2 linked regions of the Homo sapiens genome follow. The protein of the gene in region 1 interacts with the protein of each later gene in a pairwise test. Each region holds a gene or a part of one and is shown on either strand. Other genes may lie near its edges.

Evidence for each region.
Region 2: the proteins of KIF13A (region 1) and DNAAF6 interact in binary tests that used the Homo sapiens proteins (3 or more experiments, as listed by UniProt).

What each region holds. Positions count from the first base shown.
Region 1 is NC_000006.12:17,984,616-17,992,517, reverse strand, and holds the start of KIF13A (kinesin-like protein KIF13A), read left to right. Parts: upstream 1-4,882; 5' UTR 4,883-5,054; coding exon 5,055-5,109; intron 5,110-5,373; coding exon 5,374-5,464; intron 5,465-7,902. UniProt on the Homo sapiens protein: Plus end-directed microtubule-dependent motor protein involved in intracellular transport and regulating various processes such as mannose-6-phosphate receptor (M6PR) transport to the plasma membrane, endosomal sorting during melanosome biogenesis and cytokinesis.
Region 2 is NC_000023.11:107,237,597-107,244,622, forward strand, and holds the end of DNAAF6 (dynein axonemal assembly factor 6), read left to right. Parts: intron 1-1,325; coding exon 1,326-1,411; intron 1,412-5,572; coding exon 5,573-5,702; 3' UTR 5,703-6,651; downstream 6,652-7,026. UniProt on the Homo sapiens protein: Plays a role in cytoplasmic pre-assembly of axonemal dynein.

The DNA of each region.
Region 1 (7,902 bases):
GCACTCCAGCCTGGGTGATACAGCCAAGACCCCATCTCAAAAAAAAAAAAAAAAAAAAAAAAAAAGGGAGTTAGATTTGGCATGGGAAGCAGGAGAAGGCAGCACTTCTGTCACTAGGTGGAATGCCCAGGGATGCAAATCTGATTCTTCATGGAGGCCTTTCCTAGGCGAAGAACTTGAGGAGTCCCCTGACTGAGTTCAGCTTCTCTTCCAATTTGAGAACTCTGTCAGCGGAATCCAAGCACGGAATGGGTGGCCGTTTTGGGGGCTGTTGTAAAAAGGTCCACAGGACTCCCAAAGGCCCTTCAAACGCTAAAAAGACATAATTCCTAATGATGTAAGGCTAAACTGTTTTGAAAAAGAAATGTTTAGTAAACTTTTATTTATTTATTTATTTATTTATTTTTGAGACAGAGTCTTACTCTGTCACCCAGGCTGGAGTACAGTGGCATGATCTTGACTCACTGCAACCTCTTTTCTCCCCGGTTCAAACAATTCTTATGCCTCAGCTTCCCAAGTAGCTGGGATTACAGGCATGTGCCACCATGCCCAGATAATTTTTTTGTATTTTTAGTAGAGACAGAGATTCACTGGGTTGGCCAGGCTGGTCTTGAACTCCTGGACTCAAGTGATCCGCCCACCTCAGTCTCCCAAAATGCTGGGATTATAGGTATGAGCCACCATGCCCAGACTAGTAAACTCTTCATAGAAGAGGTGAGGACTAATCTGGTCTTTAAAGTTGGAAAGGGTCAGGAAAGCAGAAAGAAGAGTCACTCTGCAAAGAACCAATGGGAACTGTTTTTCTAACCTGTAACACCAAATGAATCATGCCCCTCTCACCTTAAGACCTATTCTTCTTCTCAACTATTCGTGGTGTTATGGGCCATCATCCTCCCAATCCCTTTCTCAGTCACTTGCAATCCTTTGCCTCCCTCAATCTTCACATCCCATTGGTTGCTAAATTGTTCCACTTTTCTCGCAGTAAGTTCTGCGTCTGTTCCTTCTGCTCCATTTGTGCTATCATTGGCTTTGTTCATGCTATCATCACCTCTGGATGATGATATCATCACCTCATCTGGATGACTACAATAGTCCTCTGGATGGATACAGTGTTGCCAAATTAATTACCCTGAATCAATGCTCTGAATATGTCAATCCCTGGCTCCAAATCCAAATGCTTCATTCAGTTCCTATTGCCTTTACAATAAACATGAAATTTCTTAGGCACTCAAGGCTTTCATGATCTGGCAGAGAATGAGGGAGAAGGAGAAAATGAGACAGAGAAGGGATTGATTAAATTTTGTATATCCTCCCTTCCTTTCTTCCTTCCTTCCTTTTCTTTCATCCTTCCTCTCTTTCTTTATTTTTTTGAGACTGAGTCTCACCCTGTTGCCCAGGCTGGAGTGCAGTGGTACAATCATGGCTCACTGCAGCCTTGACCTAGGCTTTCTAGCAATCCCCCCTGCTTCAGCCTCCCAAGTAGCTGGGATCACAGGCACACGCCATCACGCCTGGCTAATTTTTTATTTTTTGTAGAGACAGAGTCTCCCTATGTTGCCCAGGCTGGTCTCAAACTCCTGGGCTCAAGTGATCCTCCCACCTTTGCCTCCCAAAGTGCTGAGATTTCAGGCATAAGCCACTGCGCCTGGCCTCTGTATTAGTTTCTTAAGACTACTGTAACAAATGACCATGAAATGGGTGGCATAAGACAACAGAAATTTAGTGTCTCAGAGTTCTGGTGGCTAGAAGTCCCAAATCAAGGTGTCAGCAGAGCCGTGTTTCCTCCGGAGGCTTCCTTTCCTCCTCCTAGCTTCTGGTGGCTCCTGGCAAACCTCGGTGTTCCTTGGCTTGTGGCTGCATCACTCCAATCTCTGCCTCTGTCTTCACATGGTCTTCCTCCCTGTGTATCCAAATCCCCCTCTCCTTTCTCTAATAAAGACACTAGTCAGGCCAGGTGCGGTGGCTCACACCTGTAATCCCAACACTTTGGGAGGCCGAGGTGGGCAGATCACCTGAGGTCAGAAGTTCGAGAGCAGCCTGGGCAACACAGCAAAACCCCATCTCTACTAAAAATACAAACATTAGCTGGGCATGACGGCACATGCCTGTAGTCCCAGCTACTTGGGAGGCTGAGGCAGGAGAATCGCTTGAACCTGGAAGTGGAGGTTGCAGTAAGTTGAGATCGTGCCACTGCACTCCAGCCTGGGCAACAGAGCGAGACTCTGTCTCAAAAAAAAAAAAAAAAAAAAAGACACTAGTCATTAGATTTAGGGACCATCCTAACCCAGTATGGCCTCATCCTAATTTTATTTCTGCCAAGACCCTGTTTCCAAATAAGGTCACATTCACAGGTACTGGAGGTTATGGCTTGTACATACCTTTTTGGGAGTTACAAATTCAACCCTCTACAATTCCCACTGATAGAAACTACCAGAGCAATGGCTTAGCATAGGGATGGTATCTTGCTTGTGAAAAGGTCCTGGATAAAGAATTTCAGGAATGGTGGGAGGTAATATTAAACAGAGAGGTTTTTTGTTTGTTTGCTTGTTTTTGAGGTGGAGTTTGGCTCTTGTTGCCCAGGCTGTAGTGCAACGGTGCGATCTTGGCTCACCGCAACCTCCGCCTCCCAGGTTCAAGCGATTCTCCTGCCTCAGCCTCCCAAGTAGCTGGGATTACAGGCATGTGCCATCACGCCTGGCTAATTTTGTATTTTTAGTGGAGACGGGGTTTCTCCATGTTGGTCAGGCTGGTCTCGGACTCCCGACCTCAGGTGATCTGCCAGCCTCGGCCTCCCAAAGTGCTGGGATTACAGGCGTGAGCCACCGTGCCCAGCCTGAGAGTTTTTTGAACAATAGAATACCATGCACGATTAAAGGATAAAATTTTAATTTTGTGAAAAATCAGTCTGGAAGCTGGATTTAGGAGTGATTAGAGGAGGCAAAGCTAGGAGGGTTAACAGGATGTCTCAGCAGCCCAAAAGTGAAGAGGTAAGCACAGACCTAGATTCTTAGCCTCAGAGGGCTGGAAATTTCACCTCTTTCTGAGCAGCAGCTGAGAGCCTGTAGCCTAAAGCCTACAACAGTGTTTGTAACATAGTAGGGCGCTCAGAACACATTTGTTGAACAAGTGAATGGACAGGTAAAGTGAGATTGCAGCAGCAGGAATGGAGAGGAGGAAAGATGCAACAGGCCCTTCAGAGGTAGACTGAGATAGCTGGCTCTACAATAAGGTGGGGCTGAAGTATTTGTCCTTCAGTGTACACAGGGGACTGGTTCCAGGAACATCCAAAACCATGCATACTCAAGTCCCACAGTCAGCTCTGCAGAACCCACAAATAGGAAAAGTTGGATCTCTCAGTTTTGAACCTGCCAAATACTGTCTTTTCTTTTTTCTCCCTTTTTTTTTTTGAGACAGGGTCTTGCTTTGTTGCCTAGGCTGGAGTGCAGTGGTGCGAACATGGCTCACTGCAGCCTCAACCTTCCAGGCTCAAGTGATCCTCCCACCTCAGCCTCTCCAGTAACTAAGACTACAGGCACCTGCCACCATGCCCGGCTATTTTTTAAATTTTTATGTTTGGCAAGATGGGGTTTCTTTACATTGCCCAGGCTGGTCTCGAACTCCTGGCCTCAAGTGATCCTCCCGCCTCGGCCTCCCAAAGTGTTGGGATTACAGGCGTAAGGCACTGTGCCAGAGCACGAATACTGTATTTTCAATCAGATTTTGGTTGAAAAAAAGCCACGTGTAAGTGGACTCGTGCAGTTCAAACCCGTGTTGTTCGAGGGTCAAGCGTAGCATCACCTCGGTTGGAGGCGGACGGACCCCTCTCCTAGCACCTGCCGTACACTGTCTAGCATAATAAGTCTCCACGCCCTCTCTTCCACCTTAGCGTGTGCCTCTGCATCATGCTATTCATGTTTCTGTGTGTCCTCAACAGCACCCTGCACACAGTAAAACCTCAATGCATCTTCCAATAAGTGGATTTCTAGATTTAAGCAAAATCGAAAGATTCCTGGATCTAAACTCTGGATTTTTGACTTCTGTACGCTTCAAAATGCCTGGCACTCGGTGAGCGCCCCTTAAGCACTTGTTGAACCAAACAGAATAAATCGGATTCGCCCAGTTCCGCCCTGGCAGCGAGGTCTGCATTTGGCAGGATGACAGAATCCATTGCTATTAAATTCTTATGTAAGAGTTAATGGCCCTCCCAGCCCACTTGACATCCCTCCCGAGACAAGAGAGGCCGGGAAAGGAAGGGAGAGCACTATTTACAAACATACACTGTTTCGGTGGTGGATTCACAGATTCATTTCTAGTCTCGGTTCACCACAGAGATCTTAAAATACCGCTGCAGGCTCCGTGTGGGACAGAGGGGGCGGCGTGCCGGGACTCGGAGGGGAAGGCCTGCGCACCCAGCGCGGCGAGCCGTGGTCCTTGCTGCCGTCCCGGGGCTCCGGGTGGCAGCGGCCCCAGAAGGCGGCTCGAGCTCACGGCGGTGTCCGGGGGGGGGCCCCGCGGGCGCCGGTGCAGGCTTGGCCTGGGAGGTCCCCTGGGGAAACAATGCGTCCCGCCCCGGACTCCAGCCTCCCCTAAGCGCCGCGCTGCTCGCCGCTCCTCTCACTGCCGTCCCGCCGCTCCAGGGGGCGCCGCGCGTGGCCGTGTCCGGCCTCTCCCGAGCCCCGGCGGGTGACGGGCGCGGAACATGGCGGCGCGGGGCCCCGGGCAGCCGCGAGGGGCCGCGGCGCTGCGGTCTCGGCTGGGGCGGCGCGGCTAGAGCTGCGCCTGGGCCCGCCGGCGAGGCCTCCTCCCCGCCCGCCGCCGCCGCCGCCGCCGCCGCGCCCCGCCCCGCGCGCCCGCCCCTCCCCGGGCCGCGGCCGTGCCCCGCGTCGCGCTCCCCCGGGATGGCCCGCGCGCCTCGGCGCTGCCTCTCGGAGCTCACGGCGGAGCGGCGGCGGCCGCGCTCGAGGGGCGCGCGGCTGCAGCGGCGGCGGCGCCGCGCGTGAGGGGCCGCCTAAGGCCGAGCGGGCGCGGCGAGCGGCCGGGCGAGCGCAGCCAACATGTCGGATACCAAGGTAAAAGTTGCCGTCCGGGTCCGGCCCATGAACCGACGAGGTGAGGAGCTTTCCGCTCTTTTTTATTTCTGCTCGGGCTGAGGGCGGGGGCAACTTTAGAAACTGCGGGGCCGGGACGGCGAGAGCGCGGCCGGGGCCGGGGGGCCGGGGCGGAGGCGGCGTCCGCGCTGGCCGTGGTGCCCGGGGCGCCGTCTCCAGGCTCGGCCGCCTCCAGGGACGGAGCCCCGCTCGGCGCGGCTGGCGGGCGGGCGGGCTGGAGGCGCGGATGCTGGACTTTGCAACGTCCCTTTCTCTCTGCTTTCAGAACTGGAACTGAACACCAAGTGCGTGGTGGAGATGGAAGGGAATCAAACGGTCCTGCACCCTCCTCCTTCTAACACCAAACAGGGAGAAAGGTAAAGCGGGTTCCGAGAGGGCGGCTGGGAGGATCCAGCCTCGCGGGGTCCCGCAAGTTTGAGCCAGGAAAATGGGAGTGCTCTTTCCTATTGTTAGGAGGACGGCTTCAAGTTTGTCGCCGGCTCCTGTTTGAAGCTGTTGCAAGTCCAAGTTCCTCTCCTCCCTCGCCCCCCTTCTCCTCCATCTAGAGCGGCGGCAGGCAGGGCACCCTGGCCACAGCACCAGTCAGCTGAGCCCGGGCGGGCTGCGAGGCACCCGGGAGGGAGAGGGCCGGATGGGACCCCATAGGTGATTCGTCCAGCGGCCACATTTTACAGACAGGAAAACTGAGGCCCGAGGCGGGCAGGTGACCAGCCCACGACCTTATTGTTCGTGGAACCCAGTGTCCGTGATTCTTTTCATCACTGCAGGGTTTGTTTCCTTTGGCAGAATTGTTTAGGGACAGTGTGTCTAAAATGGGAGGAAAAAATAAAGCAAAAGTCTTGTACGATGTAGACTCAGGCTGGACTAGTTAGTATCTATTTTAGTTGTTGTTGCTGAGTTGAGATAATGCCTCAATGTAATGCGCGAATTTTGATTTTCAAAGAAACAAAAGTAGGGCCCTGAACTGTATAGACACTGAGGGATGTTTAAAAAGGGGCTGTATTTACTAGATGGCAACATATTTGCATTTGAAAAGTGGTAACTGTTGGATCCTTATTAATTCCGTTCTGTTCCATGCAACAGTATGGGTTAACGCCCCAAAATAATTTGAATATTTGGCATTTTTCTAGTAAGCCTCTGAGAAGAAATCGGTTGGAATTCATTCAATATAATAATGCAGTAGCTTGTAAATATATATATGTGAAAAAACGGGAGAGTTTACAATATTAATTTTCATTGGAAATGAATATGAGTTTGTGTTTCCACGAATCACCTGTTGATCGATGGAATACAATTTAGTGAATTTCCTTCTTCAGAGATTTTCACTGAAGAGAGACTCTGAAGCAGGGTTTGTGACATTATTGCTTAGAGAAGCAATGCCTCCATTCTATAATGTGTGGTGTTCAAGCTCAGTTTTGCCAAATTTGGGGAAAGAAATCATGAGGCGATAAGATTGGGGATTCTTTGCTTTTCGTGTTGAGCATAGCAGTTTTTATCCAGTTTGCAAACATTCTGCTACCTTTAGCAGATTCTGGTGGTGATATTAAATAGCTAAGCTATATGTAAAATGTTGTGTTTAACACTGAATGTAGTGTTTATTGTACATTGTACTGAATGTTGTCTAGTAATGGATGTATTTTTAGATGCATTTATAGCAGTGTAGATAGTATAGCATATTTCATGGTGATAGTAAGTAAACTCATTGAGTACATTAAATATTTACAGATTAAATTAGATGCCCATATCACCAACGAATGTCCCCTCCCCCCACCCCCCCGCAAACTGCATATTGTTTCGGGAAAAAATTCTGTTGGGTCAGATTCTTGAAAGCAGTCTGGGGGAACAGGTAGAATACTTTTTAGCTCCTGTTGTGTAGCCGTTACTTGTTTTCCTTGCTGGCTTGGCACCTGCTCCTTGTCACTCTTAACCATAAGCAGTGCGACTGTTAGCTACTGTTTAATGACATGAAGTGTTGTCATTTGTGAAGAGAAACAGATTTGATTTTGTGGGATTTGGTACAATCTATAACTGTGGACAGTTGGTTCCAAATGCTAAGTAATCAGTTGATCATTTTTCGGGCTGAACCACGTTAGTTACTAATCAGGATCTTTTAGGTAAAGATTTGAAGGGTGATTTTGGGATCTATTCATCTGCTTACTTACGATAGTCCCTTATCTGGAGTTATAAAAATAGCATTGAAATATGGGTACTCTCGTGTTTTGTCCTTCTGACGGATCTAATTCTTTGAATAGCAGATGAGCTTTCTGTGGGATTCTGTCTTGAGTACCGGTCATTTCATTTACAGACAAACTGAGTAGTCAACAAAACAGTGCTCCTTGTACATTAGGATTACTGTCTTTGCACAGATGAAGACACCAAATGCATTTTTATTTTCATTATGCAGCTTGGTTTCATATTTCTCCACAGACTTTTCCCTTAAAGTAACAGTGCATTTAAAAATAGAAACAATTCCTCCCTTGGGCTCTGGGTTGATTAATTGCAGCAGTGCTTCATGCTATGTTTGCAATTCATTTCTGTCATTGGTTTTTAGATAGTGCTCAGGGCAGGGCAAAGGTGAAGAGTAGAATACTGAGAATGTTATTATTTTTCATATCTGCAAGTCCAAGGTTTGAAGTGTAAGAGGTCTTTAAATGCATATTGGCAAACCTGTGTCAAATTGAGAATTACTGTTTTTCTGAAAGTTGCAAGAAATTACCAATGAATTAGCCATGGATAGAAATTGAAGGTTAGTGGGTGAAAGTTTTCAGTCTTACCAGTAAAAACAAGTGAGAAT
Region 2 (7,026 bases), on another chromosome or scaffold:
TAAAGGAAACACCATACCCATTAAGCAGTTACTTCCCTCTTCTCCATTTCCGCAGCCCCTAGCAACCACCAATCTCTTTTCTGTCTGTATAGATTTGCCTATTGTGGGCCGGGCGCGTGGCTTACCCCTGTAATTCCAGCACGTTGGGAGGCTGAGGCGGGCAGATCACAAGGTCAGGAGATCGATACCATCCTGGCTAACACGGGGAAACCCCGTCTACTAAAAATACAAAAAATTAGCCGGGCGTGGTGGCACGCACCTATAGTCCCAGCTACTCTGGAGGCTGAGGCAGGAGAATTGCTTGAACCTGGGAGGCAGAGGTTGCAGTGAGCCGAGATTGCCCCACTGTACTCCAGCCTGGGCAACAGAGCGGGACTGCGTCTCCCACAAAAAAACAAAACAAAAACAAAAATTTGCCTATTGTGGACATTTCATATAAATAGAATCCTATAATATGTGACATTTTGTCCCTGGTTTCTTTCACTTAGCATAATGTTTTCAGGATTCATCCATATAACAGTACTTTACTCCTTTTTATGGCTGAATAATATTCCATTGTATGGATACAACACATTTTGTTTTTTCCATTCATCAGTTGATGCACATTTGGGTTGCTTACACCTTTTGACTGTTATGAATAGGGCTCCTATAAGCAAAAACATTATGTACATGTTTTTGCTTGAAAACCTGTTTTCAGTGCTCTTGGGTATATACCCAGGAGTGGAATTGCTGGGCCATGTGGTAATTGAGATGAAACATTTAAAGTGAAATCTTACTAAACCAATATGTTGTCCTTTTGGGGAGGTGGGAGTCATATTGTTATTTCTCTTTTGTTTTGATAACATAACACCTGAACTCCCACACCTCCCTAGAAAATGTGGTATGGAAATTTATGCCAGAAGACTATTAGATGGCATCACCAACTCATACCCAACATGAGAACTAAACTTTTTTTATACAAATTGCCAACTGATATAAAGGCAGTTGAAGGTCCCCAACTCTAACAGGTGTACTACTATGTACCTTCAGAAAATGAAGGTTACAGTCAAGTAACCAAAGTGTTTCTGTATAGCTTTGGAGCCAGAAACCTTAGTCAGATTACAGGAGGTTGCCCTTGGGCCACTCACTAAATTTCTCTGTTGTAGTTTCTCCATCTGTAAAATGGGGATAATAATCTCTGCTGCTCAAGATTGACATAAAGATAGGGCATAGCCTGGCACATAGTTGACAATAAATATTAGTCTCTTTTCCCCATATATTCTTATATTCTTCAAATTAATTGCTCTCCAAGATATCACTATTTTTCTTCTCATTTTCTCTTTCAGGCTAAAATTAAATTGCCAAATACAAACCCTTCTGATATTCAAATTGATATCCAGGAAACAATCCTTGACCTTCGTACTCCTCAGAAGTGAGTAAAACTTAGAACTGGAATAGTGTATTATAATATTAAAGAGTCTTCAGTCAATATTATTTTTTAAAATGTACAGTTATTTTGTATCACCCCTAAAGTCTGAAGAAAAGTGGAAAATTTTGTATTCAGATGTTTGATCTACATTAATATAAACATAAATATGTTTGGAAATACTTGGACTTTTTTCTACTTTGCATCCGTGCATTTGGAGTGGGTTAATGCTATTAAAACACAATTCTTGACACCCAGATGCAGTTTATCTATCAGAAAAAATAACTAGAAGTGAAAATGCCATTAAGTTGTAAGTCTTATATGTGGTTTTTGTACATTGATTACATAAGGGAAGCAATATCTTTATACTTTTGTCATTTTGTGGGGCTGTAAGGTTAAATTTGAGTGTTTTCATTTAAATCAACAAAAAGATCTTGCCATCAATTACTATCTAAATACCTCACTGCTTTGTGCACATCTTATCTGGATATAGAGCAGTGAGCACATACTGGTTCACTGCAATGGTCCTAACTCTGTAACTCATGAACATTTCAAACTGGATTTGGGAGGCAGGCAGTTGCTGGCACATTTTCTTCCTTCCATTATCAGTACCTATAATTCTCCTTTGTTGAGCTTAGGACTTCAAGAAAATGACAAGAAGATCCTTCATACAAAAGATTCCTATGTGTAAACAACCCAATATGCATATGTAGCTTAATCTTGGCTTCTATAGTAAATGCATTTAACCCAAAATGGTCTACAGATAAATATATATCAAATGTTTTCTTATTATTTACATCATTTCAAAAATGTATCCTCACAGAACAATCATCTCATGTTATAAAAATTATATTCACTATTTCTGCTGTTTACTTCAAGGAGTATTGTACCCTTTTGTTGCATTTTATACACGAATTTACTCTTCCACATAACCTTTACAAGGAAAATTGGTTAAATGAACAATCTTCCAAGATATTTGCAAGCTTGTTAAAAGCACACACATGTCTACACACCATGGGGTTAATTTCCGTTTCCCTAGCAGTTCTCACTGTCTGTGAGACTTTCATTTAGTGGATTCTGATGGATATCTGTAATGACGGCACAGCCATAGCAGCTACCTAAAGATTGATGGAGACAGCAGAAATACTGAATACAATTTTTATAACATGAGATGTTTGTTCTGTGAGGATACATTTTGGATTAAAAGTACTTTCCCACATAGAACATGGGCTATACACTAGGTCCTTTGGATCATAATGTACTTATATATTAAATGCGCAGTGCAGAGAGGTACCATCTCAAGAAAACCTGCTTAACTAAGATAGAAGACAGAAAATATAATTAAGGATTTTATCATGTTTCCTAAATACTTGAGAATCCTTTAGAGCCATGCTTTTCTCTGAAATTGCATTATCGGGAATGTGTCTTGTTTTCGAGTTTATTGATATTCACACCTACTTTCTTTAGTTTCTAACTTTGACATCATATAACGCTATGTTTATCCAATCTGAGAAAGATTTGAGAGGGCATTCTGTTCTTGTATCTATAAGGCAGAAACAAGCGAATTTATTTTAACTGAATTGACCAGTGGTTTCTGTCAAACAATAGTCAATTTCATTCGAATTACCAATAAAACCCAGGTATTTACCAAAATAAATAAAGCAGTTTACCAAATTCTTCACTTTTTTCAATTGGTTGTTTTGGCATGTAGATACCCAACATGGAGTAAATGGAGAGGAGGAAAGACGGAGAAAATTGGATAATTTACGGGGATCTCTTAAGTCTTCATATGAGATTTCATTATTTTTCTAAGTGAATTCTAAGAATTTCATAAATGAATACCTTGAATGTGATAATAATAACACATTCTAAAGACAAATGTAAGCTAATTTTTGGTTGAGTGCTGCTTTAGATTACTCACACATTTGCTGTGCTCCTTTAGTTTGGATTGGGAATTGACTGATTTTCAAAGACTGATAGCTAAAAAAGAAGTTTTCTAAATGAAATAGTTGAGTTGCAGCTCAGTAGCTATTTCTGCACTTTCTTTGAAAATAGTTATGTCTCCTTCAGTAAACCTTAAAAAGGTTTTTAACCCAGATATGTAAGTCAAATAATTTTGTTAATTATATAAGATAAAAATTTCATTATGCGAATATGCTGGGAACCAGGATGTCCTTTGCTTAAATCTCTTGTGAGCAACATCAACTTAAACTCTCTAATATAAGTATAAGCATGTAAGTCTCTAAACTTGAGTTCACTGTAGAGATTTTTTTTGTATTTACATTCATGTATTATTGTTTGCATTTAATTTCTAATGAAAATTAACACTGGATGAACCTTTGATCACTGCCTAGACTGTAACTTCTGAAAATGCAAATACATTGTCAATGTAAAAGTAGAGGTATTGGGTTTAAATGTTTGTTCATATCTTATAGTACTAATCTATGGTAATTATTCAAATGTTATTTTGTGGTGACCTGAATACTTGCTTCATTTATTTACTCACTCATTCATTTATTTATTCACTCAACATTTATAAAGTCTTCCACTAGACACTAAGGGAGCACCAAGATAAGATACATTAATGTCCTTCCATGAATTGTACATGGATAAGTATTTGGAGAATTTTTATTTTGTTTAAATATAAATCTCAGTACAGATAATAAGACAGTAAAACAGACGACGAAAATATTTCCCTTCTCCTAAGAGCCTAAATCAGTTGTACAGTTCTACTGTTCAACATTTTATTATGTGAAGCCATACTACTTAGAACTACACAGAAATGCAGGCGTAGATGGATCATTCCAATGGCCACTAACTGTCTCTTTTGAATTTATTTCTCTCTGGACAGAGAAGTGCACATTATCATTGGAACTCCTTCTTCAGCTGATTTATAGTTGTCTTTTAGTGCAACGAAGCTACCATACTAAGCTTTGCTTTCTTTTAAAAGTGAATATATTATCATTTATTGAATAAAGTATAAAGGAAATCTAAGTCTAGCACAACCTATATAGTAAACAGATTTAAAGGATGGACTCTACACGGTTTTTGCACTCACTTTTTTTTTCCTGAGATGCCAAATATTACAGTCTACATTAAAATGCATTGCCACTACGTTTGGCAACGTATTCAGGCGAAGTGTTTTTCCTACCCCACATGGAATGGAACAAGAGTCACAGAAAATTTATCCTTCAGGTTCCATAAATGTGTAATAAATACTTTTAATGAACCCAGTCTTCTGAACTCAGGTTTTTGCAAAGGAATAAAGAAGGAATTGATTTTCAAGGGTTTTGTTTTCAAATACATACTAGTTCTCAATTCAAGAACCCAATAAGTGCCCCTAAAAATACCATATTCCTTTACTTATTTGGATATTATACCTTCTAAAAGAGCATCCTGTCCACCTTTTATAGAGATACTCAGACCTTCTCTACTGAAAATGCGAGGTAACAAGTGTTTCATGCATTTAATTTTCTTCCAAAACCAGCATGTGCTGACCCCGTGCATAATTTAGATTCATGCCAATATGGCAGAATTATGGATGTCTCATCCCAGCAATGCATCTAAAGCATAAAACTATCCAGCAACTGAACTATAAACCACAAAATAAACCTAGCAATCTATCACAGGGAATTTTTGTCAATGTGTAAGTAGAAAGAATCAGAAGCAAGGAGAGAGAAGCACTTTCATTGATTTGGTATTGAAATCATTCCCAGCCTCAGTTTCAAAAACTACACCTGTGGTAGAGACTCTGCTTAAATCTATGTTAGCAGAAGTGTCATAGAGCCATTCCAATTTTCAAATTTGTATCCGTCGGCCACATTGCATCTATACATAAGTATGAGTGGCAACAGATCTGTCCAGCAAACTTAAAAGTTGCATAGTTCTATTTCTATGCCTGTAAACATAGCCTGAGACTATGTAAAATGAGGTCAATTCGGAGAAAAATAGGGGCGCCAAAACAACTGCTTGGATTTTTAAGTCCAGAAAAACTGGTATACTGTTTGTGTTATTTAGGCATATTTTTGATCCAATATTTACACTATCTAAATATTGGGGGGGGGTTGTTTTCTAACACTCTAGTGGCATATGTTGTTTGCAATTGTCTTATTGAAAGTGATACATCATTTTAGGAAGCTAAGGTTTTATTTTGTTGTTTTTTTTTAGGAAGCTGTTGATAACTCTTCCTGAGCTGGTGGAATGTACCAGTGCCAAAGCATTCTATATCCCAGAGACTGAAACTCTTGAAATCACTATGACTATGAAAAGAGAGTTAGATATTGCTAATTTCTTCTGAAACTGCATGAAAAAGATAAAAAGTAGTAAAATGGCATTGGTAACAATTAAAAAACTTTGAAAAAAATGATTGTTTTCTATATTCTCTTTATTATTCTGACATATTTTTGAAAGGGACAAAATTCAGTTCTAGTGATATTGTGACCATTTACAGTAATTTCTATTACTCTGTTAGGAAATATGTTTCCTTGGCCAGGTGCAATGGCTCATGCCTGTAATCCCAACACTTTGGGAGGCCGAAGCAGGCGGATCACTTGAGGTCAGGAGTTTGAGACCAGCCTGGTCAACATGGCGAAACCCTGTCTCTACTAAAAATACGAAAATTAGCCTGGCGTGGTGGCAGGTGCCTGTAATCCCAGCTACTCTGTCTCAAAAAACAAACAAAAAAAGGAAATATGTTTTCTTATGTAAATAAACTATTCTATTTTTATAGTGATAGCTGAGTAGAATCTTTACAGGTTAAAAAATTAGAATATTTCATGGTCAATTACATAATTGAAATATGATCATGAAATGGTTGGTCCACTTACTTCAGTAGTCTGAAAAACTTATGCTAATTATTTACATTTACACTGTGATACAATCAGTTGCATAGCAATTGGTCATTATTATTACCAGAGAATTTTATTTGGTTGCTTTTTCATTGATTTGAGCAAATGATTTACAGTGTTCTCTGTTTAGGCTCTCACTGTTGTTCTGGAATATACAGGTAATAAATAGTTTGATGTACCATACTATCAACATATTTACTTGAGTAAGGAACACTTTTGTGCGTACAGTATTATTTGGCTTCTTCAGTTGTGCTTTTAATGCTTGGATATAGTTAGGTTAAAAACATTTTTTATATGCACTAATAATTATTAGCATTGCCTTTTTGGGTACTGTATTTATATGTAGTCAATTGAAATCCTTGACTTTAAAATAAATTTAAAGTGTGGCACATTTACAAATCCTGTTTGCTCTCATTTCCTATCTTTCTTCTTAAATAGACATATCTCTTTTAGGAATTGTCTCAATGTCCCCTCCTTCTTCTATACTGTATTGCATATGTTTATTTTGGAATTATTTATGAATACATTATAAAGCTTGTGTGACTTGGCTTCATACATTATTTTAGAACTGTGGAGTTACCAAGGAGTAAATTTTGAAAAGATGAACAATGAAAAGATGTTCATCACTTCTATATGAACTATTAAGGGAATAAATAGCAGATATTTTCTAGAGTTAATTATATATATACAACTATGAAGCATCTAGTTTGTGACTAGATGAAATGATGAAATAGAATGAAAAGACTGAGATTTTGGAAAAAAAAATGGTTGTGT